3 linked regions of the Homo sapiens genome follow. The protein of the gene in region 1 purifies or fractionates together with the protein of each later gene. This does not show direct contact. Each region holds a gene or a part of one and is shown in the gene's direction. Other genes may lie near its edges.

Evidence for each region.
Region 2: the proteins of CPVL (region 1) and CYB5R3 purify together in Homo sapiens (affinity purification with mass spectrometry; 3 studies listed by BioGRID and IntAct, with this or other methods). This does not show direct contact.
Region 3: the proteins of CPVL (region 1) and CAPZB purify together in Homo sapiens (affinity purification with mass spectrometry; 3 studies listed by BioGRID and IntAct, with this or other methods). This does not show direct contact.

The regions. Positions count from the first base shown.
Region 1 is NC_000007.14:29,066,158-29,073,606, reverse strand, and holds part of CPVL (probable serine carboxypeptidase CPVL isoform b precursor), read left to right. Parts: intron 1-1,141; coding exon of another isoform or gene 1,142-1,183; coding exon 1,184-1,306; intron 1,307-1,702; coding exon 1,703-1,834; intron 1,835-7,449. UniProt on the Homo sapiens protein: May be involved in the digestion of phagocytosed particles in the lysosome, participation in an inflammatory protease cascade, and trimming of peptides for antigen presentation.
Region 2 is NC_000022.11:42,632,163-42,639,611, reverse strand, and holds part of CYB5R3 (NADH-cytochrome b5 reductase 3), read left to right. Parts: intron 1-2,765; coding exon 2,766-2,897; intron 2,898-7,449. UniProt on the Homo sapiens protein: Catalyzes the reduction of two molecules of cytochrome b5 using NADH as the electron donor.
Region 3 is NC_000001.11:19,342,310-19,349,758, reverse strand, and holds part of CAPZB (F-actin-capping protein subunit beta), read left to right. Parts: intron 1-4,506; coding exon 4,507-4,572; intron 4,573-5,324; coding exon 5,325-5,401; intron 5,402-6,894; coding exon of another isoform or gene 6,895-6,997; exon of another isoform or gene 6,998-7,007; intron 7,008-7,449. UniProt on the Homo sapiens protein: F-actin-capping proteins bind in a Ca(2+)-independent manner to the fast growing ends of actin filaments (barbed end) thereby blocking the exchange of subunits at these ends.

The DNA.
Region 1 (7,449 bases):
GAGGGAATGGCTGGTCCAAAGGCCTGGCAGACATGTGCCTGGTATGTGCAAGGAATAGCATGGAACCCAATGGGCTGGAAAGGAATGAGCGAGAGGGTGGCAGGGGTTGAGGGTAGAGAAGGGAGCAGATCATGTCAGCCCTTATGCCTTTGCTTTTGGGAAGATGGGAAGTCATTAAAGGATAAGGGCAAAAGAAGGAGGCCAATGAGGAGTCTACTGCAGTCATCCAGGCCAGAGATGATGTGATGGAGAAGGGGTTGTGAGAAGACATTGGACTCTGGACAGATTTTGTTAGAATAGGTAGAGCTGACAAGCTTGGCTGATTGACTTCTGTGGAATACGAGACAAAGAGAGATATAACGAATGGCACCAAGATTGTTGGCCTGAGCAGGGGAGAAACAGAATTAACATGAGATGAAAGGGAGGCTGCCTCAGGGTTGGGGATTGGGAGCTTTATTTTGAACATGTGCAGTTTAATATTAGACATACAAGTGGAGATATCAAGAAGGCAACTTTTGATGGAAAGAATGCAAAATGCAAAATTATTTGAAAAATACTGCTGAGTCAATAGTAGCTCTTCCAGCACAGTCTTAAAGTAGAACCGTTACCATGTTTGTTAGGGGAAATATATCTACAAAATATTCTGACCTTGAAAAAGGACCTTGTGCTGGAAAAGTTTGGAAATAGAGATGAGTTCAAGTGAAAATTTTAGTGGCCAATAAATATTATTTTCCTTTTCTGCTTCTCCTATTCCTTTAGTACATGTTGATTTCAAAATTTGCAGCATTATCAGATTTTGAAATCTTAATTTTAAACTTGAGATTTTTTTCCCTCTAATCTTTGAATAGAGCTTTCTGGTAAGAGATGCCTAACACATGGCAGAATTGTGTTCTCCCAAGTTATTTTATTTTGGAAGGAAATTAGAATGTTCACTTATTACATGTTCACTTGTGATTTTTTGTGCATCGAACCTGTTCATGTCATGTGGTGCTATTTGAGACGACAAAAGAATTGGAAGACAGAGGTTTTTGCTATTATGGAATCTATAATGTGGGGTTAAGAAACAGATGGTATACCTCATGTGGAAAGATTGCTCCTTCATTGTTATTTTAATTAGCTTAAGTACATTTAATTTTACTAGCATCCATTTGTGATTGGCCATTTCAACATCTGTCCTTCTCAGTCTTATGCAGGGAAATATGTGCCAGCCATTGCACACCTCATCCATTCCCTCAACCCTGTGAGAGAGGTGAAGATCAACCTGAACGGAATTGCTATTGGAGATGGATATTCTGATCCCGAATCAGTAGGTTTCTCCTTCTGACTTTCTATTTTGTCTCTTAGGGGGATTAAATGCCTTTTTATCAGATGGAAGGCTCCTCTTAGAGGTCTAACTTTTGATAAGGGAAACACCAGTTGACTTTATGACTTAAATCTCCTAATTTTTACCAAATGTTTCAACGTATCAATTTACTGTGTCAGCTTACATTGGCTGTCAGTGCAAATGTGTGTGTGTTTGTATTGTGTTGTGTTCTGTTGTGTGTGTTGTGGGGTGTATATGTGTGTGTGCATGTAATTATCCTACTTGGCTAACCAGCACAATATTAACAATTACAAAGGATTATTTCACCAAGCAAATGGGCTTCCTTAAGGTCTCTTTCTCTCCCTTTGTCACATTGATGTGTGTCTTTTTTGTCCTCAGATTATAGGGGGCTATGCAGAATTCCTGTACCAAATTGGCTTGTTGGATGAGAAGCAAAAAAAGTACTTCCAGAAGCAGTGCCATGAATGCATAGAACACATCAGGAAGCAGAACTGGTTTGAGGCCTTTGAAGTGAGTTCTGGGGGCCCTGTGCTGCCCTTGAGCAATTAAAACCATCTGGGGAGGGAGGGCGGGTGAGCAGGAACACCTTGGTGCTCAGGCATTTTTTTGTTAAGAAGGTATATCTGTTATTCCATTGGAGATCGGGAGGCGAGTTGAGTGGCCTCATAATGAAGAAAAGGACTGTCTGTGTTCCTTTGAATTTACTTTGGCTATATTTTAAGCCTGAGATCATCTTGGAGTGTTTATCTAACTGTGTCTTTCATTAACCGTTTTGATTTCTTTAAATGCTGTGGAGGCCCTCAAGGCAGACTCTATCATATGGAAATCAGAAGAAAGGCAACCCAGGAAGTAGAGGCATATGCTTCACCATCTGCTCTAAACCATGTAGAAGAGTTTTATATCCACAAACAGGGTTTCAGCTGGGAGAAATGACCACAGTGTGTAACAGATGACATGTGACACACGTGTCAGGAACAAAGATTATAAAGTGTAGTAATTTGAAACTCTTACAAAGGGCCATTGGTATTTGTGCATATCCTTTCATTGCTCCCCTAAAATTAAACTTGAGAATCAATAATTACGTTCTTCACTCTTTTCTTTCTCAGTTATTTAAAATGTAAGAATATACTAAATATTAGGATACAGGAAGTTGGGTTTTTTTTGTTTTTTTTTGCTTTTTTTGCCAATGCAGACAGAGCCATGTGTAAACAATCTCCCTGAGGGGCTTTTTGCCGTATTTACTATACAGCCATCATGTTTGACATGGTAGTAAATGAGGCAAGGTCTGAATTTCGAGGGCTTTAATTTGTTTGTTATTAGACACATATTCTGTAACAGTATATCTAATGTCGTTATTGTTATTAAAGCAGAAATCTGATATTAAGTCTTAAGGGCATTGCAGATCAGCCAGTTCAGATCAAAATAGGAGACATGCAACCTTGGAGAAAAGGGTAGAGGATAATACAAAGTTATTTTTCATTTTACAAGTAGGGTGTTGGGACACTATCAGAAATCCCCCAAGGCAGTGACCGCCCTTGCCGTGAATTCTGATAGCAGCTAGCTGTGCAAATGGATGGAGCAAAGGGAGTCCTGAGCCATCCTACAGAGCTCCACCAGGCTCTCCTTTCTCTGTGTCAGGACACTAAATGTGGCTGCAAAGTGTGGATTCAGAATTTCTTATGCAATTGTAAACACAAAGGAAGAGGGGTCTCCTGGGGCACATGTAGGATCATGCTTCCACTTGCAATGACAGTATTTTCAAGGCTTTCTGCTGTGGTAGTCACAGAGGGGACGAAGGAGTGAAACTTCAGTATTTAGAATTAATACCAAATTTTATGTGGCATGAGACCAATTTGCAATTGAAACATTTGATATGTTTTTAAAGAAGCACACAGGATAAAGCAATTGTCAAGAGCAAGAGCATTTGAGAGGCCCATATTTAGAAAAAAAGCAGAAAGATGACTGGTACATAATGCAGCAGGCTAAACACCTACAGGATTAGTGAAGCTGTAGAAAAGTTCAGGTGTGTTGTGTATTCAGAGATAATGAGAACATGACCCACGAGGTGAGAATCTCTCCCAAACCGGATACGTCAGAAACCGGAACCCCAAGCAGGTAAAACGTTTGAAGGCTTGGAATGTCTTTTTGACCATTGGTCCCGTATCTTGAGTGATGAATTAAAACAAGACCTTTGCTTTTTCAAGGAAAATAGATAAAATGATACTTAGGACAGTAAACAACTTGTGGTTGAAATGTGTTTCAGTGACTGCAAAGGAAGACTCCAACAAATCCTGAAACCCAGGGGAATATAAATGTCAGAATCTCAAGCCTAAAATGATAAAGCCTGTTTGACGCTCTGATCCTTTAAAATGATTTAATTAATCAAAGAGTAGTAACTCAGAGCTGGAGAGTACTCTGGAGATAGGTCATCTACTGTCCCTATGCATTTACATGCACACACACACACACACACACACACACACACACACACACACACACACACACACACACATTTACTGGTGAGTGGAGAGGATGCCGAGCCCCAGGGGATAGCAATGAATTGCCGAAGGATACACAAATAGATTGTGGCAGGCTGAGGACTGGAATTGCTTCCCCCATTTCCACCACAGTATTTATCCTATGGTAATTTTCAGGCATTCTGTAAAAATCCTGGATCGTCTTAGATATTCTGCAAGATGTGAAATGACTGATCCTCTGTCCAGTATTACCTCCCTTTCCATGATGATTTTCTGAATCACAAAGTTCTTAGTTTCACAGGTCTTGACCACCCATGTTATTTTTTGACAACAACTGACTTTTTCTTTTTTTTTTTTTTTTTTTTGAGACGGAGTCTCGCTCTCTTGCCCAGGCTGGAGTGCAGTGGCAAGATCTCAGCTCACTGCAACCTCCACCTCCCAGGTTCAAGCCATTCTCCTGCCTCAGCCTCCCGAGTAGCTGGGATTACAGGCACTCGCCACCACGAATGGCTAATTTTTCTTATTTTTAGTAGAGACGGGTTTTCACCGTGTTGGCTGGGCTGGTCTCAAACTCCGGACCTCAAGTGATCCGCCCGCCTCGGCCTTCCAAAGTGCTGGGATTACAGCTGTGAGCCACCATGCCTGGCCAACAAATGACTTTTAACTCTTTCTAAAAGCAAAGTTATTCTTCAAGGTTGACTTTATATTCCCACTGGTGTTGAAGATAATTTCTAACAATGAGTTCCAAAAATGATGTGTGCATTCAGAATGACCCTGGCCTATGGTGCCCCATCTGGGTGAACAAATTAGAAAAAGACACCTCGGCCGGGCGCAGTGGCTCACGCCTGTAATCCCAGCACTTTGGGAGGCCGAGGCGGGCGGATCACGAGGTCAGGAGATCGAGACCACGGTGAAACCCCGTCTCTACTAAAAATACAAAAAAGTTAGCCGGGCGTAGTGGCGGGCGCCTGTAGTCCCAGCTACTCGGGAGGCTGAGGCAGGAGAATGGCGTGAACCCAGGAGGCGGAGCTTGCAGTGAGCCAAGATCGCGCCACTGCACTCCAGCCTGGGTGACAGAGCGAGACTCCATCTCAAAAAAAAAAAAAACAAAGAAAAAAAAAAAGAAAAAGACACCTCCTCTGTGGTGATGCAGTCCTGTGGGTTCAGGACGGGGCAGGCAGATGCCTCCATTGTGTGAGGATAAGAGGTGGCCACTTCTCCAGATGCAGCCCTGAGCCAGGCTCTCCAGCTCAGCGAGCAGAACTTTGGCTGGTTCCCTGTCCCTTTGCACCCCTTAGCCACAGGCATCGCATGGAGCTGCACAACCAGATGTGGGGCCCTGAGCAATGGTAGCATTGGTAGAGAATACTTACTACCACCTCCACCCACACCGCCTTCTATGGTGATAACCCTTTTCATTCTTGGCCTCTAGCCCCATGGCAATAGGAACTTGAATAAGTTCTTTCATGTTTGAAAAAGAATATGAATACAGGCCGGGGGCGGTGGCTTACACCTGTAATCCCAGCACTTTAGGAGGCCGAGGTGGGCAGATCACAAGGTCAGGAGTTCGAGACCAGCCTGATCAACATGGTGAAACCCCGTCTCTATTAAAAATACACACACACAAAAAAAAATTAGCTGGGCGTGGTGGCAGGCGCCTTTAATCTCAGGTACTCGGGAGGCTGAGGCAGGAGAATTGCTTGAATCCGGGAGGCAGAAGTTGCAGTGAGCTGAGATCTCACCACTGCACTCCAGCCTGAGTGACAGTGCGAGACTCCATCTCAAAAAAAAAAAAAAAGAATATGAATATAATAATTAGTCTATTTTCTCAAGCATTGAAGCATGGCCAGAAGGAATTGGCAAGTAGGAAGCATTGCAGGCTGACTGCTGGGAGCCAGTGTGTGCGTGGTTGAGTGTGCAGGCTCAGGAGTCGTGGCCTAATCATCTCATCTCTGACATTATTAGTGAGGTGTCCTCGGCAAGTTGCTTAAACTCATGTGTCTCAGTTTTCTCACCCATAAAATTAGAATAATAATACCTTATCTGATAAGAGACCTAAATTTGTACTTGATAGATTGTTTTTAACATGTGCTGACTTCATTTCTTTGAATTCTTTTGTAAGAACTCCTTACAACTTAATATCATCATCAACAACCCCCCTCCATGTCTTCAACCTCTTCTGTGACTATTTTCTTCTCTTCATCTTCTTGCTTTGCCAGAAACCTGGCTCTCCCCTGATGCTGCAGTCCCTGTGGTCCTCTTGAGTGGGGGCTGTTCTCTCTCTTAGCTTGTCTGTATCACTTGGTTCATAGGTGGAGTAGGTGTCTTCCTTGCTCATCATGTGACTTTCAGATCATGTTCCCTGCCTCCTCCTAAAGCATTGAGCTTTGACTCTCCTGTCCTCAGACAGGGCCTCTGACCACTTCCAACTGTGTCTGCCTACCAACCCCTGGTTACTCCCTCTCATTTGAATAGCTGAGCTCCTTCCTCCCTGTCACTCTCTGCAGCATTATTCTTGTCATAATTCCTGGTAACTGCAGGATCCACATTGACGATCCTTTTGGGACCTGGTCCTTGGTGCCTCAGCCTCCTCTTTTTCAATGATCTTGTTCTCCTCCTCATCTTAGCTGCTGATTCTCATACCCTAAAATGCTGGCAGCTGATCCACAATCACACATTCAAACATCTTTCTCCAACTACCACCTCCTGTCCGAATCTCTTCTGCTAATGTACTGATCTTACAGCCCTGCAACCTCACTACCTTTCAATCCATTGATCCTCCTGCCTCTCCACTATCTCTAACCCCCTCAAGTCTCCATTTCTCTAATTACCTGTCTTCAACCCAGGGTCAGTCATTCCATACATTTCCAAGCCCAAAGCTCTTTTGCATTTCTTCCAACTCCTTTGGCTGAACCACAGCCCTGGCTCAATCTGCCTCTCTGTCAGGCTGTGCTTGTCTCCACACAGCTGACAATGGCTGGAGGAAAGCATGCAACCATGCTGACTGCTCTCCCGCTCAGCTGGTGACTGGGTTTTTTAATGTCAGCCCAAAGATAACTTCCACCAGCTCCAGGAACCTGCATCTGCACCATATCCTGCGTCTTCTCTCCATGTCATCTGGTGAGCAGTTCATGATCCATGTTAAGGCACCCTTCCCACAAGGCTTACTCCCATAGGCAAGGCCTTTGAGCTTACTGTGTCCTCTGCCTGGAACCTTCCTTCCCCTAGATGTCTGCATGGCTCTATTCCTCTCATCCAATATGTCTTTACTCAAATGCCACCTTCTAAGTGAGGTCCTCTGTGACCTCCTCTCTACATTGTCCCATACACACATGCACACACATGACACTTCCTACTCCTCTTTAGTTTTCTCCTTGTCATTCCCTAACATACTCAAGAGTTTATCACTGTCTACCATATGATATAATTTACTTAGAAATGCTTGTTGTCCCCCACCAGAATAAAAGCTCCATGGGGGAGGACCATTGGTCTGTTTTGTTGATGGCCATTTCTCCAGTGCCATGACAGTGTCTAGCACAGAGAATATGCACAATAAGTGGGCGCTGGATGAAACAATAAAGGAATGAAAAAGTTGTTGAATAAATGAAATGACAAATGTCTGTACATTTTTATCCACACTGATGTTTT
Region 2 (7,449 bases), on another chromosome or scaffold:
TTGTCACCCAGGCTGGAGTCCAGTGGCATGATCTCGGCTCACTGCAACCTCTGCCTCCTGGGTTCAAGTGATTCTCATGCCTCAGCATCCTGAGTAGCTGGGATTGCAGACGCCCGCTACCATACCTGGCTAATTTTTGTATTTTTGGTAGAGACGCGGTTTTTCCATGTTGTCCAGGCTGGTCTCCAACTCCTGACCTCAGGTGATTCACCTGCCTCGGCCTCCCAAAGTGCTGGGATTACAGGCGTGAGCCACCGTGCCCGGTCCCCCCCCACTTTTTTTTTTTTTGAGACAGAGTCTCGCTCTGTCACCCAGGCTGGAGTGCAGTGGCACGATCTCAGCTCACTGCTACCTCCGCCTCCCAGGTTCAGATGATTCTCCTGCTCCAGCTTCCTGAGTAGCTGGGGTAGCCTGCCACCACACCCAGCTAATTTTTGTATTTTTGGTAGAGACGGGGTTTCACCATGTTGGCCAGGCTGGTCTCGAACTTCTGACCTCAAGTAATCTGCCTGCCTTGGGCTCCCAAAGTGCTCAGATTACAAGTGTGAGCTACAGCGCCTGGCCTTTTTTTTTTTTTGAGATGGAGTTTCACTCTTGTTGCCCAAGCTGGAGTGCAATGGCACGATCTCGGCTCACTGCAACCTCCATCTCCTAGCTTCAAGCATTTCTCCTGCCTCAGTTTCCTGAGTAGCTGGGATTCCAGGCATGCGCCACCACATCCAGCTAATTTTTTGTATTTTTAGTAGAAACTGGGTTTCACGATGTTAGCCAGGCTGGTCTTGAACTCCTGACCTCAGATGATCCCCCCGCCTCAGCCTCCCAAAGTGCTGGGATTACAGGCGTGAGCCACCGCGCCCGGCCTTTTTTTTTTTTTTTTTTTTTTATGGAGTCTTGCTCTGTCTCCCAGGCTGGAGTGTGGTGGTGTGATCTTGGCTCACTGCAACCTCCTCCACAGGCAACCTTCTGCCTCAGCCTCCTGAGTAGCTGGGATTACAGGCATGCGCCACTGTGCCCGCCCAGGGATTCAGGTTTTCTAACCAACTTTTAGGGTCTTTTTTTTTTTTTTTTTCAACAGAGACAGAGTTTTGCTATGTTGCCCAGGCTGGTCGCGAACTACTGGGCTCAAGCAATCTTCTGCCTCTGCCATCTGAGTAGCTGGGACCACGGGCGTGTGACACTGCAACCAGCTAACTTTTTTTTTTTTTTTTTTTTTTTGAGATGGAGTTTCACTCTTGTTGCCCAGGCTGGAGTGCAATGGCATGATCTTGGCTCACTGCAACCTCCGCCTCCCAGGTTCAAGCGATTCTCCTGCCTCACCCTCTCAAGTAGCTGGGATTACAGGCACCTGCCACCACGCCCGGCTAATTTTTGTATTTTTAGTAGAGATGGGGTTTTACCCTGTTGGCCAGGCTGGTCTCGAACTCCTGACCTCAGGTGATCCACCCACCTTGGCCTCCCAAATTGCTGGGATTATAGGCGTGAGCCACTGCACCGGGCCTACAACCAGCTAACTTTTTATATTTTTTGTAGAGATGGAGTTTCACCCTGTTGCCCAGGCTGGTCTTGAACTCGTGGACTCAAACTGTTCACCTGCCTCCGCCTCTCAGAGTGTTGGGATTACAGGCTGGAGCCACTATGCCCAGCCCCCTTTTAGGGCCTTCAGGAGACTGAGATGTCGGGGGCAGGGGCTGGGGAGGAACAGCCCCTCAGGGCCGTGTGGCAGGGTCCACTTGGTCATGAGGTATCCCAGCGTGGTATAAGGGATGGGTGGACTCTGGGTCAGCTCCTCACCTGCCAGCTGTGTGACTGGGTGAGTCGCTTTGCCTTTCTGGGCTGTTTCCTCATCTGCGAAATGGTGGTGATGACAGTGCCTACCACACGGGGTTGCTGCGAGAGCCGTGCCCGTGTGGTACCCGACGTGGCCCTGGGATCCCAGAGGCTGTTGGCTTTGGTGATCTGAGCTGTAGGGTCTCAGCTCTGGGGGCCTTGCAGATCACCTGGTCCACTCAGGTTGAGAGGGGAAGGGACTTTCTCGGGGTCACACAGCCAGTGACCTTCCCAGTGCCTGGCTCAGTGCTTCGCTTCCCCTTACACCTGATGGCAGAACCCCAGGGCTCAGGGACACTCATGGATGTCATTTGGGGGAAGTGGCTCAGTTTACTCAGCTTCACTGGCTTGTTCTAGTGTGCTCTGTGGGAGAGCAAAGAGGAGAGCATCAATCCCAGTGGCCCCAAGGGACTGGATTTAAAGGTGCCATAGAGCCATTTGGTCAGTGTAGGCCTTTCAGATAGATTCTGAGTTGGGGTTATTATTTGTCTGTTTGTCTAAATCAAGCTAGAACTTGACATCACTTAATAAGACCAGGGAAGTTGACTGAAGGAAGCAAGAGAAGGAAGGAGCACAAATACATTATGCTCAAGATTAATTTTACTCTGAGCTTCCTAGTAGCCAAAGTGAAAAAGGATATGTGCTTAGACCCACAGCTCTTTTTGGTCCTGGCTCTTCAGAGGAAATGGAGCTTTTTCTCATGGTACTGAGCATAGAAGCCCAGGTAATGCTCAGTGACAGGTGTCATGAGGCTGGTCTTTATAGCTTCTCCTAGTGGGCACCAAAATGGATGATGAAGCTTTCTGGATGAGGGTGGTGGGGAGAGGGTGCTCCTGGCAGAGGGGGCAGCGTGAGCAGAGGCCTGGTAGTGTGGACAAGCCGGTGTGTTTGGGGAAAGGCAGGCTCCTGCACTGACCCCGCGGGTCCTGTCGTTTCAGTTGGGCCATATGGTGCTCTTCCCAGTCTGGTTCCTGTACAGTCTGCTCATGAAGCTGTTCCAGCGCTCCACGCCAGCCATCACCCTCGAGAGCCCGGACATCAAGTACCCGCTGCGGCTCATCGACCGGGAGGTGAGTGCCGGCCGCCGCCGCTGCCTCGTCAGCATCACAGCATTGCCCAGCACCTACTCTGTGCTCAGGGCATGGTCCTGCTCTGAAGTAGATACTGTTGTCCACCCATTTTACAGATGGAGAAAGCAAGGTGATGTCTCTTGCTAAGGCCACCAGGAAGTAGCAGAGGAATTTAAACCCTGGTCTCTCTGTCCACAGAGCCCCTTCTCTGAACCACACTCACTGCCTCATGCAAGGTCAGAATGGAAGGAACCCCTCAGAACTTTTAGGTTCAATCCCCCATTTATGGGGTAGGAATGCAGGGGGTGAGAGATTTGAAGATAAGGTCTCCTCCCTCCTCCCCCTCCCCCAGAGTCATTCCCCACAGCCTGGTACTACTGGACCTGGACACCTTTCACATCTGTGCAGATTCCCTGGGTGCTCTGAGCTGTGTGGGCTTCCTCTGCCCTGTTTGATTCTTACTTTCTTTCATTAGTGAGTTCATACTTTTTTTTTTTTGAGACAGAGTCTTGCCCTGTGTCCCAGGCTGGAGTGCAGTGGTGCGATCTCCGCTCACTGCAACCTCTGCCTCCCCAGGCTCAAGTGATTCTCCTACCTCAGCCCCCTGAGTAGCTGCGATTACAGGCGTGAGCCACCGCGCCCAGCCTAATTTTTGTATTTTTTGTAGAGGTGGGGTTTCGTCCTGTTGCCCAGGCTGGTCTCAAACTCCTGGGCTCTAGTGATCCCCGCACCTCCACCTCCCAAAGTGTTGGGATTACAGGCATGAGCCGTGGTGCCCGGCCTGACTCCTTTTTTTCAAAGCTCTGATTATGATTTAAAACCATCCTCTCCCTCTTTTGCCTTGCCCCCAGTAAAGGCTGCTTCCATCGGTCACTTGCCCTCTTCAGAGCCCCTCCCTTGCTCTATTTCTGGCCACCCCCAGCAGGCACAGGAGGGGTGTGGCAGGGAAAACTGAGTCACAGCAGAGAACATCATCTGCCAGGGCCCAAGTCTCCACCCTGGGCTTGTGCCTGGTGCCTCTGACTCAGGCTTCACAGGAATCTCAGGCTTCCATGGCACGGAGCTGGCCGTTTCCTGTAACTGTTGGGGCAAGTGTCTGTAATTGTCCCAGGAGCTCACAGAGAAGTTGACAACCAGAGAGAAGCAAAAAAATACAAAATGAAAAGTAAATTATTGGCCAGGCACGGTGGCTCATGCCTGTAATCCCAGCACTTTGGGAGGCCGAGGCCGGTGGATCACCTGAGGTCAGGAGTTCAAGACCAGCCTGGCCGACATGGTGAAACCCCATCTCTACTAACAATACGAAAATTAGGCCAGGCGTGGTGGCTCACACCTGTAATCTCAGCACTTTGGGAGGCCGAGGAGGGCAGATCATGAGGTCAGGAGATCGAGACCATCCTGGCTAACACGGTGAAACTCTGTCTCTACTAAAAATACAAAAAATTGGCCGGGCGTGGCTGGGCTCACACCTGTAATCCCAGCACTTTGGGAGGCTGAGACAGGCGGATCACAAGGTCAGGAGATTGAGACCATCCCGGTAACACGGTGAAACCCTATCTCTACTAAAAATACAAAAAATTAGCCAGGCGTGGTGGCAGGCACCTGTAGTCCCAGCCGCTGGCGAGGCTGAGGCAGGAGAATGACGTGAACCTGGGAGGCGGAGCTTGCAGTGAGCCGAGATTGCGCCACTGCACTCCAGCCTGGGTGACAGCAAGACTCCGTCTCAAAAAAAAAAAAAAAAAATTAGCTGGGCGTGGTGGCAGGCACCTGTAGTCCCAGCTACTCCAGAGGCTGAAGCAGGAGAATGGCGTGAACCTGGGAGGTGGAGCTTGCAGTGAGCCGAGATCGTGTCACTGCACTCCAGCCTGGGCTACAGAGCAAGACGCTGTCTCAATCAATCAATCAATCAATCAATATGAAAATTAGCCGGGCGTGGTGGCAGATGCCTGTAATCCCAGCTACTCCAGAGGCTGAAGCAGGAGAATGGCGTGAACCTGGGAGGTGGAGCTTGCAGTGAGCCGAGATCGTGCCACTGCACTCCAGCCTGGGCTACAGAGCAAGACGCTGTCTCAATCAATCAATCAATCAATCAATATGAAAATTAGCCGGGCGTGGTGGCAGATGCCTGTAATCCCAGCTACTTGAGAGGCTGAGGCAGGAGAATCGCTTGAACCTGGGAGGCAGAGGTTGCAGTGAGCCAAGATCACACCATTGCACTCCAGCCTGGGTGACAAGAGCGAAACTCTGTTTCAAAAAAATAAAAAATAAAAAGCAAAAAAAAGTAAATCACCACCTCCCAGATGAGACCACACTTAACCTTGCGATATGATTTTTTGTTTGTTTGTTTGTTTTTGAGATGGAGTTTTGCTCTCGTTGCCCAGGCTATAGTGCAATGGTGTGATCTCGGCTCACTGCAACCTCTGCCTCCCAGGTTCAAGCGGTTCTCCTGCCTCAGCTTCCCAAGTAGCTAGGATTACAGGTGCCCACCACCACGCCCTGCTAATTTTTTTTTTTTTTGTATTTTTAGTAGAGTCAGGGTTTCAACATGTTGGCCAGGCTGGTCTCGAACTCCTGACCTCAGGTGATCCACCCGACTTGGCCTCTCAAAGTGCTCGAATTACAGGCGTGAGCCACCGTGCCTGGCCCTGTGATATGTTTTATACTTATGTAAGCAGGCACACATGTTTTTTTCTTACCCAAATGAAATAATAACATTTTGAAACCTGTTTTTTAACGGTATTTTCCCTTGTTATTGTTATTGGTGGGTTGTTTTGTTTTTGTTTGTGTTTTTTTAGAACAAGGTCTCGCTCTGTCACCCAGGCTGCTTTCTGCAACCTCAAACTCCTGGGCACAAGCCTTCTGAGTAGCTGGGACCATGTGCATGCACCACTATGCCTGGCTCTGTTACTGTCGTTCCTTTTTGTTGTTGTTGAGATGGACTTTCGCTCTTGTTGCCCAGGCTGGAGTGCAATGGCACAATCTCGACTCACCGCAACCTCCACTTCCCAGGTTCAAGTGATTCTTCTGCCTCAGCCTCCCAGGTAGCTGGGATTATAGGCATGCGACACCATGCCCAGCTAATTTTGTATTTTTAGTAGAGATGGGGTTTCTCCATGTTGGTCAGGCTGGTCTCGAACTTCGACCTCAGGTGATCCGCCCGCCTCGACCTCCCAAAGTGCTGGGATTACGGGCATGAGCCACCACGTCTGACCCTACTGTTTCTTAATTCCAGAAATAATGTATGATTTATATGTGCTCACAGCAAAAACTCTGTAAGGTATGACCTCCACCCCTGCCCCATTGCCGCATCCCAGGGCCCCGTGCAGAGGGCCCAGGTCACAGCTCAGCGTGAGCCTGCCAGACCCTATGTGGGTATCACGTTCATACACGGGTGTGTGGAGGTGCGGGTGTGTGCACACTCAGTTTCTTTTTTTGATAACCTGGTTTTGTAGCCAGCCATACAACATGGATCCTTTTAGTATTTCATCATAGGGATGTTACACAAGGGAGCATGTGGCAGATGTCCTAGGATTGCAGCTTTGCCCCCTCATTGTGCCCATGGTGGCTTTGCGGGGTCCGCAGCGGGCCTGCTCTGGGTGCTCTGTGCTTTGCCCCACCCTGCTGCCCTACTAGAGGTTGGCCAGCACCATAATTGTTCATCTCTTGTCCTCATTTCTATTCTTTTTTTTGAGACAGAGTTTCACTCTTGTTGCCCAGGCTGGAGTGCAATGGTGCGATCTCAGCTCACTGCAACCTTGCCTCCCAGGTTCAAGTGATTCTCCTGCCTCAGCCTCCTGAGTAGCTGGGATTACAGGCATGCGCCACCACGCCTGGCTAACATTGTAGTTTTAGTAGAGACGGGATTTCTCCATGTTGTTCAGACTGGTCTCGAACTTCCGACCTCAGATGATTCGCCCACCTCGGCCTCCCAAAGTGCTGGGATTACAGGCATGAGCCACCACGCCTGGCCATCTCATTTCTATTCTTCCTCCAAATATTTTCTGGTACATGGGTGTCTGACCTTGACCCTTAGGACCAGTTGATAGTCCTGGAATCCACTTCCAGAAGGCCTTGGGGCTCTGTTTGCCCCTAATGCAGAAGCTTCTGGTAGAGGCAGCTTTGAGGCCTGGGCTGCCTGGGAGAGGTTGGTGGGCCCCCTGCACACCTGATCCTGAGTGGCGTTTGCACCGTCTTTCCTGCGATTTGCCTCTGCTCACACGTGTAGGGACGGGTCTCTCCTTGAGGCAGCTGCTCTGTGCTGGAACACTGCTCAGGTCGGAGAGTTCTCGTACTGAGCCGAGATGGGCATCTGTGATGTCCTGCCCTGTTGGAGAGGTCTGTTGTCCCCCTCTAAGTGATGACACCATCCACATGTGGACTTTGCCACGTTTGGATGTAAGCGCCTCTGCAGCGCCGACCTTCCGCATGGCTTCTTCACACTCCCTCTCCTGGCCATGCTGGGTACTGGGGACCCCACAGGGAGTGCACCCTCAGGACGCTGGGTTTGGTTCCAGCTCCGACTGGAACTGATTATGTGATCGTCCCTGGCCTG
Region 3 (7,449 bases), on another chromosome or scaffold:
TTTACGTGGGCTCAGCTTCCCTGCCATGGGCTGAGGGGGCCTGTGTTCTAGGGGATCAGTCTGCTCCTGGGGACAGTGTCGCACACTGCAAGACCCAGCCCTCTCCTCCACCCGACCTCTCCTACCTTTGTTGGCCAAGGGGTTTCGCCTGTTTGTTTTAAGATGGCTCTTGATTCTGAAACACAAAGATGGTAACCAAGAGGCCAAATTGCTGATGTGACTGGACTTGCCCAGGTGACCCAGGACCTTTGCCGATGGCCGCGGCCTCTCTTTGGGCTGTTGGTGCCCATTTAAAATGGGGCCCACAGTGAGCTCAAAACCCTCATCCCTTCCCTAGGGTGGCCGGGAATCTGCCGTCCACATGGAGCCGGGGAGGAGGAGAGACTCTGATTTGCTGGAAGGACCTCATTCATTTCCATCCAACCCCCAGGCTTCCCTGCCTGCCGAGCTGACTCCACCCAGCCCTGAGCCTAGGCACAGTAACCACCTTCACGTCTGGGAGAACACACAGTCCCCGGGGGCCAGCATGCAAAAGTTCTTTTTGAAGCTGGGTGGATGGAGCCCCCTCCCTCCTGAGGGTGCTCCCCAGCTCCTGTTGAGCAGACAGCCCACCCCGTCGTCTTGGCACCAGGGTTTTGCTAGTGGCAGATAAAGATGATGTTCCAGCAGACGCTCCAGTGCTGCCGAGGTTGGTGTGTTTATTAGACCTGAAATGAGAACTGTGACTCTCAAGCTCATGGGCACTCTCACTACTCCTGTTTTATGGAGACCCCCTGGGGTCTGAGGGTCGAGATTCCTCAGGATGACTTGCCAGAGCATGCCAAGACAGATGGGAGCAGAGAAGCCGGTCTTTCTAGCATTTCTCTCCCTCTTTTCCACTAGTCCTCAGTAAAACAGCCTTGCCAGAACCAGATGTCTTTTTTCTGCAGATATTTACTGTTATGACTTGGGAGGCAGCAGGTTCTGGACTGTTGCCCTCACCTAGACCGCCCCCCCCCCTTGTCAGATGCCACCCGTTTTCTCAGACCCGTCGGTCTCCCAGACCACATTGCTTTGTGAGCAGATGCCTGTCAGGGACAGCTCTATCAGAACAGACCGAGTCCAGCCCAGTGAGCCGTGATGTTCTCTCACTGCTCGGTCCCCCCTCTGCCATCTACAGCGACATAGGTTGGGTCTGTTCCCCTGGCAGACAGCAGGCCTTCAGAGCCCTGCCAGAATCTCTTGTGTCTCCCCTAGCACACACACATCCCTCCCCACCCACCACCGCCAGGCCTGGATAGCCCTAGTTCTCTCCCATTTCTTGGTGTCAGGGTGTTCAGACCTTTTAAGCAGATGAATGCTAACTCATTCAAGGCTTTTAAAACCCAGTGCCTTAGCAGGGTACAGTGGCACACACCTGTAGTTACAGCTGTGTGGGAGGATTGCAGGAGTTCCTGTCTAGCCTGGGCAACATAGCAAGACCTCCTTGTCTTTTAAAAGAAAATTAAAAAAAAAAAAGTGCCCTAAACTGAATCCAGCCCTGCAGATGTAGCTGGGCCAGGACAGAACAGAGGGTAACCACTGCCTTCCCAAGCAAGCAATGGAAACTGGCAGCTGCAGTGTCTTCATCACGCGATGGGGTGGGAATGCTGCCCCTTATCTGGGCACAAGGAATAGTGTCATCTGTGCACCTTAAAGTTGCACAAAAGCTTTCCTAGTAGCGACATCTCATCCTTGTCAAACTTGAAATTATCTAAAAACCACAAGTCTCTTCATAGGAACTGTTTGCAAGTCAGCAGTTCCCCATTTTGTACTGCATGAAATGCACCCTTGAGCCTAAATATCTGGCTTGCATTTGCCCTGGTACATTTAACTGGCGTGGTGAAGTAGGAGGAGCAAAGGCGTCGGAATCTAACAGTGCTGTATGATTCTTGCTTCTTTAAGCTTCGGTTTCCTTGGGTTTAAAACAGGGTTCCTAGGAAGCTGAGATGGAAAAAGGTGGCTGCCGCCTGGCTCCATTCCAAGTTGCTGCTCTCGTTCTGTAGCTAGCCCAGGTTTCCGGGTTCCGTATTAACCCTGTGACCATCTCAACCCTTGACACTGTCGATAGGAAGCTGGTCGTTCTCTCAGCTGGGCCTTTACTTAAGTCCTGGACAAACAAGTTGACCAAGGGCAGGCAGAGACTGCTACAGGGTGCCACATAGTGTATGCAGTGCACAAATGGTTCTATTTTTGGTGGGTCGGTGTTGCCAGCGAGCTGACCCTGACCAGGTGTGGAGGGGAGTGGGTGGGGGGCTGTGGAAATGTGGCCAGGTCCCTACCCCTATCGGCAGAGGCTCCATCCTGCCCTTCCTCTCAGCCACAGGTGCAGGATGGTAGATGGGAACTTGCCAGAAGGATGCGACCCTATTTAAGTAGTTGTGTTTTCTTCCAGCCCAGCATCCCCACCAAAACAGGAAAAGAAGTGCTCTCGTGCAGGGCTTGTTCACAGTGAGCCTGGCTGGCTCCTCATGATCTCTGAGTTTAAAATGTGCCAGCAGATGATTTTAACGATCCCATCAAAAATTGTTGTCTGGATCAGTTTCGAGCTAGCGTTTCCTTGCAGAGGCCATTCTTCCTTTTTTGACAAAAGTTGGGTCGGCCAGGTGCAGTGGCTCATACTTGTAATCCCAGCACTTCGGGAGGCTGAGGCAGGTGGATCACCTGAGGTCAGAAGTTCAAGACCAGCCTGGCCAACATGGCAAAACCCTGTCTCTACTAAAAATAAAAAATAAAAATAAAAATAAAAAAAAGCCGGACGTGGTGGTGGGCACCTGTAATCCCAGCTACTGGGGAGGCTGAGGCAGGAGAATCACTTGAACCCAGGAGGCAGAGGTTGCAGTGAGCCAAGATTGCACCATTGCACTCCAGCCTGGGCGACAAGAGCGAAACTCCGTCTCAAAAAAAAAAAAAAAAAAAAAAAGACAAAAGTCGGGTCAGTGCTGCCGCCCCCAGTGTCAAGGATTTCAATCACAGGTCGGTTTTGCCCGACCCTGGAAGCCTGGTCGTTTAAAGTGGCTTGGTTCTCTCCTGCCCTCTGCTCACCCCGCTCTTAACCAGGTTGGTTCCACCTTTCACAGCCTGAAAGTCAGTCTCCCTGATGAGGAGATGTAGAAATAGGTGAGAAGCAACAGAGCCCGTACCCTCTGAGACAGTATCTCCCCCCAGACTCCACCCTGTTCTCCTGGTTCCAAAGAGAGGAACCCACCTTTTGCTGGTTTTTCTTCTGTGGGCCTGGTCTCATTTTGAACTCTACCCTTTCTTTTTTTTTTTTTTTTTTTTTTTTTTAGCTTCTCTCACAAATTTTATTTTATTTTAATAAAGCTTCAAAAATTATAAATAATGTCTAAGCAGATTTAGAATCTCAACAATAAATGCTTAGCCTTAGAGTACTGCATTTTTGTATTATAATTTGATGGCCACTTCTTGCATGGTTTCTACTCTACCCTTTCTGATGCTGTTCTTTTCTTCCTCTTTCTTGATTATTTATTTCAGCTTCCACATTTTATTTCAACAACATTAGTCATCGTAGCTGCGTATTCCTGTTTTCAGTGTAGTAACGTTGAGCATTTATGTTCCTAGCACTCTTCCAGGTACCCTGTGCGTTATGAGGCAGGCACATCTCTCCTGAAAGAATTTATATTCTTGTCAGGGAAATAAGGCTTCAGATAAGAAAAAATTCGGGGGAAAGTGCCGAATTCCTTCTACCCTAACCTGCCTCCATTTCCTCCCTCCTCCGAGTTGAGATGATTGGGTCAGAGCCAGCTCTTCCTGGGCTTGGGAAGAGGAGATGGGGCTTGAGTGCTGCTGCCCCCCTCATAACCTCAGAGTCTATATTGAGACTCTCTTGCTCAAACTCTCCTCGCAGAGTAGAACGAACAGGCCCTGGTGCGAGGAAGGGTTTGACCCAGGCTCTGCCATTGCCACCTGCATGACTAGGGTGAGCCACTGAATCCCTCTGGCCTGAAGTCTCCGTCAGAGGTTGTCTGTCCCTCCCTGCGAGACTGCAGCAGATGGCACCCCAAAGCCACCATTTGGGAGCGCCAGGGCGCAGCAGCAGCACAGAAGCTTCCCCTGCAGTGTCAGGCCCTGAACCTGGGGTGGATGGCCCAGCGTGGGCCTGGGCCTGCCAGTAGAGGCCTGAAGACAAACCGAGTGAGTCTTCTCCAGTTGGCTCGGGTGAGCTGGTGCCTGCCAAGGGCTGCTGCTGTGGCTCTGGGCATCTGCCTGCTCTACCATGGGCAGCAGCAAAATCTTCTCCCTTGGAAGTGGGACTCTGGGCTTCTGCCCTCTGGGCTCTTTATGGTCTGAAACTGAAGTCGGTTTGTGCTTCAGTTCCCAGGCTGCAAAACTGGCCTTGTCATACCTGCAGCTGGCTCCACGGTGGGAACAGTAGGCTCTTTGCAGACCGTGGAGGTGGGGTGGGCTGTCTGCCGTTCTCAGAAATCTCTGGCTTTCTCTGACTTGGAATGTTTCTGTCTTTTGCAGATGGAGAAGGATGAAACTGTGAGTGACTGCTCCCCACACATAGCCAACATCGGGCGCCTGGTAGAGGTGAGTGACCTGGGCTCTGGCTGGCTCCTGCAGTGACCCACAGCAGTGACACTGCAGCCCCGGAGCCGCTGTGCTGGCCTCCTTCTCTGCTGCTTTCTCTCAGCTCCACCGCAGCCGGCAGAGCGCTTCTTGGATTTTGCCCTGGCCTCATATTTTTGGAGCCTCTGATTTGGATGCCAGCAGGCTCCAGCTTCAGGGCCACCTCCTGCTCCACCCCCAGACCTGGGCTCCCAGAAGACTGCTCAGGCGCTGGCTCTGGGGCGCACTAGGTCTTGTCTCCCCTGATCGCCTGGGTGTGAACAGGGCCCTGCGCTGGGAGAGGAAGCAGATCCCAGGAATGCCAGTGGGCCCTGGTGTGGCTTCAGTTGCGGCTGCCTTGGCCCTCCTGTCACCACGTTGTTTGGGAAGGCAGGGAGGTGCTCTCGGGTTTCACAGAATTGTTCACAAAATTAGTGGGGAGCCCAAGGGGTGGTGATGTGGTTTAGAGCAGCTCCCAGGCATGGGCAGAGCTGGCCGCCAATCCCTGGGTACTGGCTTCCTCCCTGCCTGTGGACTGTGGATGGGAAGGTGCCGGGAGCACAGATGGCAGGTGGGGTCTTGGCAGCCTGGAGCGCGCTCACTGATGCCCCAGAGCAGGCGTGTGCCACCCTCCAGTGGCCACACTGGGGACTGCAGGGCTGGCAGGTGGAGGGAGGGCGTGGGCCTCAGGGTTCCTGACCTTTTGCCACTGCGCTGACCGACCTCCCTTCCAGGACATGGAAAATAAAATCAGAAGTACGCTGAACGAGATCTACTTTGGAAAAACAAAGGATATCGTCAATGGGCTGAGGTAATGTACCAGAAAGCACAAGCTTTAGAAGCAGACAGAGGGATTTGAACCCTGGCTCTGCCAGTTACTAGCTGTGTGGTCTTGGGCCTCGGTGTCCTCATTGGTAGGCTGCAGTGCCCCTCTTCTGGGATGATCATTATGTTGATTTTGGAAAGTAAAGTCCTGATGTGTCATCTGCACTCTCCGTAGCAGCTGTCGGTCCCTATCTGCACCATTTGTTTTCTGGGGCATGTTCACCCTAACAGCCATTGGTGCCCTTGCCCCCGGAGCCTCCTCAGCCCTGCAGTTTGTCAGTCCCCGCTCAAAAATCTCCCCACCCTCCAGCCTGGGCCTAGGGGAGCCATGACACCACATTCCGGGCAGCCCGGCTGCCTCTGGCTGGCCTGCTCTCCGAGACAGCAGAGCGCAACGTGCAGGCAGGGCCCTCAGTCCGGGCCTTCTCAGGCCCCCAGCCTCCCTGACGCCACATGCAGGCAGGGCCCTCAGCCTGGGCGTTCTCAGGGGGCCCCAGCCTCTCTGACGTCCTCTGCCAGGGCTCTGCTGCCAGTGGCCAGTGTCCTGCACCATCCTTCCCACCTCGTGCCCTCAGCTCTGCAGTGTCAGCCCAAACAAAAGCCGGGCGCTCTCTGGACCCTCCAGGTCCACGGCGGACAGAGCAGGAGGCAGGCCTCTGACATGAGGCCAGAGCCCAGCTGGGGGCAGTAAACGGCTGTGGAGGGAGCACTGGCCTTGGAGTCAGGAGAGTCAGGAGGCCGGGATCTCCCCTAAGCTCTGTCATCCCGAGCTGCATGGCCTCTGGCACTCCTCGCAGAGGCCCTTGTCCAGTCGAGGAGGCACGGTCGGCTGAGATGATGAATCTAGAACACGCTCTGCAGTCCAGCAGCACCGTGTGAGTCGGGCTGTGCTATGCCTTTAGCGGCCAGCCCTCTCACCCACTGCCGTGGTGTAGCTCTCACAGCCCAGCCCAGAGGAGAGGCAGGCTGCAGTCCCGGGGCTGCCCCAGCTCGTGGACTGGGGTGGGCGACAGATTTCAGTCACCTGCTTTACAGTTTTAAAACAGAGGAGGAGTCCTCTTTGGACCCTTGTCTTCTGATCCCCTGCCCACCTGGGGGAGGCTTGGTCTTCGTGACCTGTGACAGGGTTAGAGCCCAGTGGTCCCTGGCGTTAGGCCTGCCACTGGCAGCCACTGCCCGATACACCAAACACACTTTCCCGCCCAGCCAACCTGCACAGTCCCCAGGCAGTGGCTGGGAAGTGGGGGAGAGAAGCCGAAGAGCCTGCGGGTGGTGGTGGCGAGCCCCTGAATACCACGACCACCGCCAGCGTGGACCTCTGCAGCGGCGATACCACTCCACACCCCAGAGCCGCCACGGCATCCCCCCTTCCGCCTCGTGGGTCTCCCTGAATTTCCTCCTCAGCTGTGGCCCCCTGCGTTCCTGGCTTCTCGTCGTTCTCTTCCCTCCCACTCCACTCATCTTGAACACTCTCTGTAGATCTATTGATGCTATCCCTGACAACCAAAAGTTTAAGCAGTTGCAGAGGGAGCTCTCTCAAGTGCTGACCCAGCGCCAGATCTACATCCAGCCTGATAATTAAGCCGATCCAGGTACCCTGCCTGAGAGCCGCGAGACCCTCCCCACTAAAACAGGACTCACCAACCCGCCGAGACCCTGCCGGTCCGGCTGCTGCTCCGCGGCCATTTAAACCACCACTAACCCCCACGTGTGCTCCCGGTCGGTGCACAGCCACATTCCCGTGTAGCCTCGGCCCCATGTAACACGGCACCTATCACGTGTGTGTGCTTTCCACTCTGGGTGGAGGCTGGGTGTGGGGAAGACGGCTGATTTTTTGGCTTTTGCTTCTGAAGAAGCCCAGGCCAAGGGACGGATGCTGCCTCTCCAGCAGCAGCCACTTGTGTGCACCGGCCTGACTGTCCCCAGGGCAGGGATCTGCCTGCCGTCCACCCCCCCATGCTTCAGAGGAGCCTCTGATGCTGGTGCAGGGATCCCAGAAGCCACATAAGCCTCCCCGCTGCTCAGCGGCACATT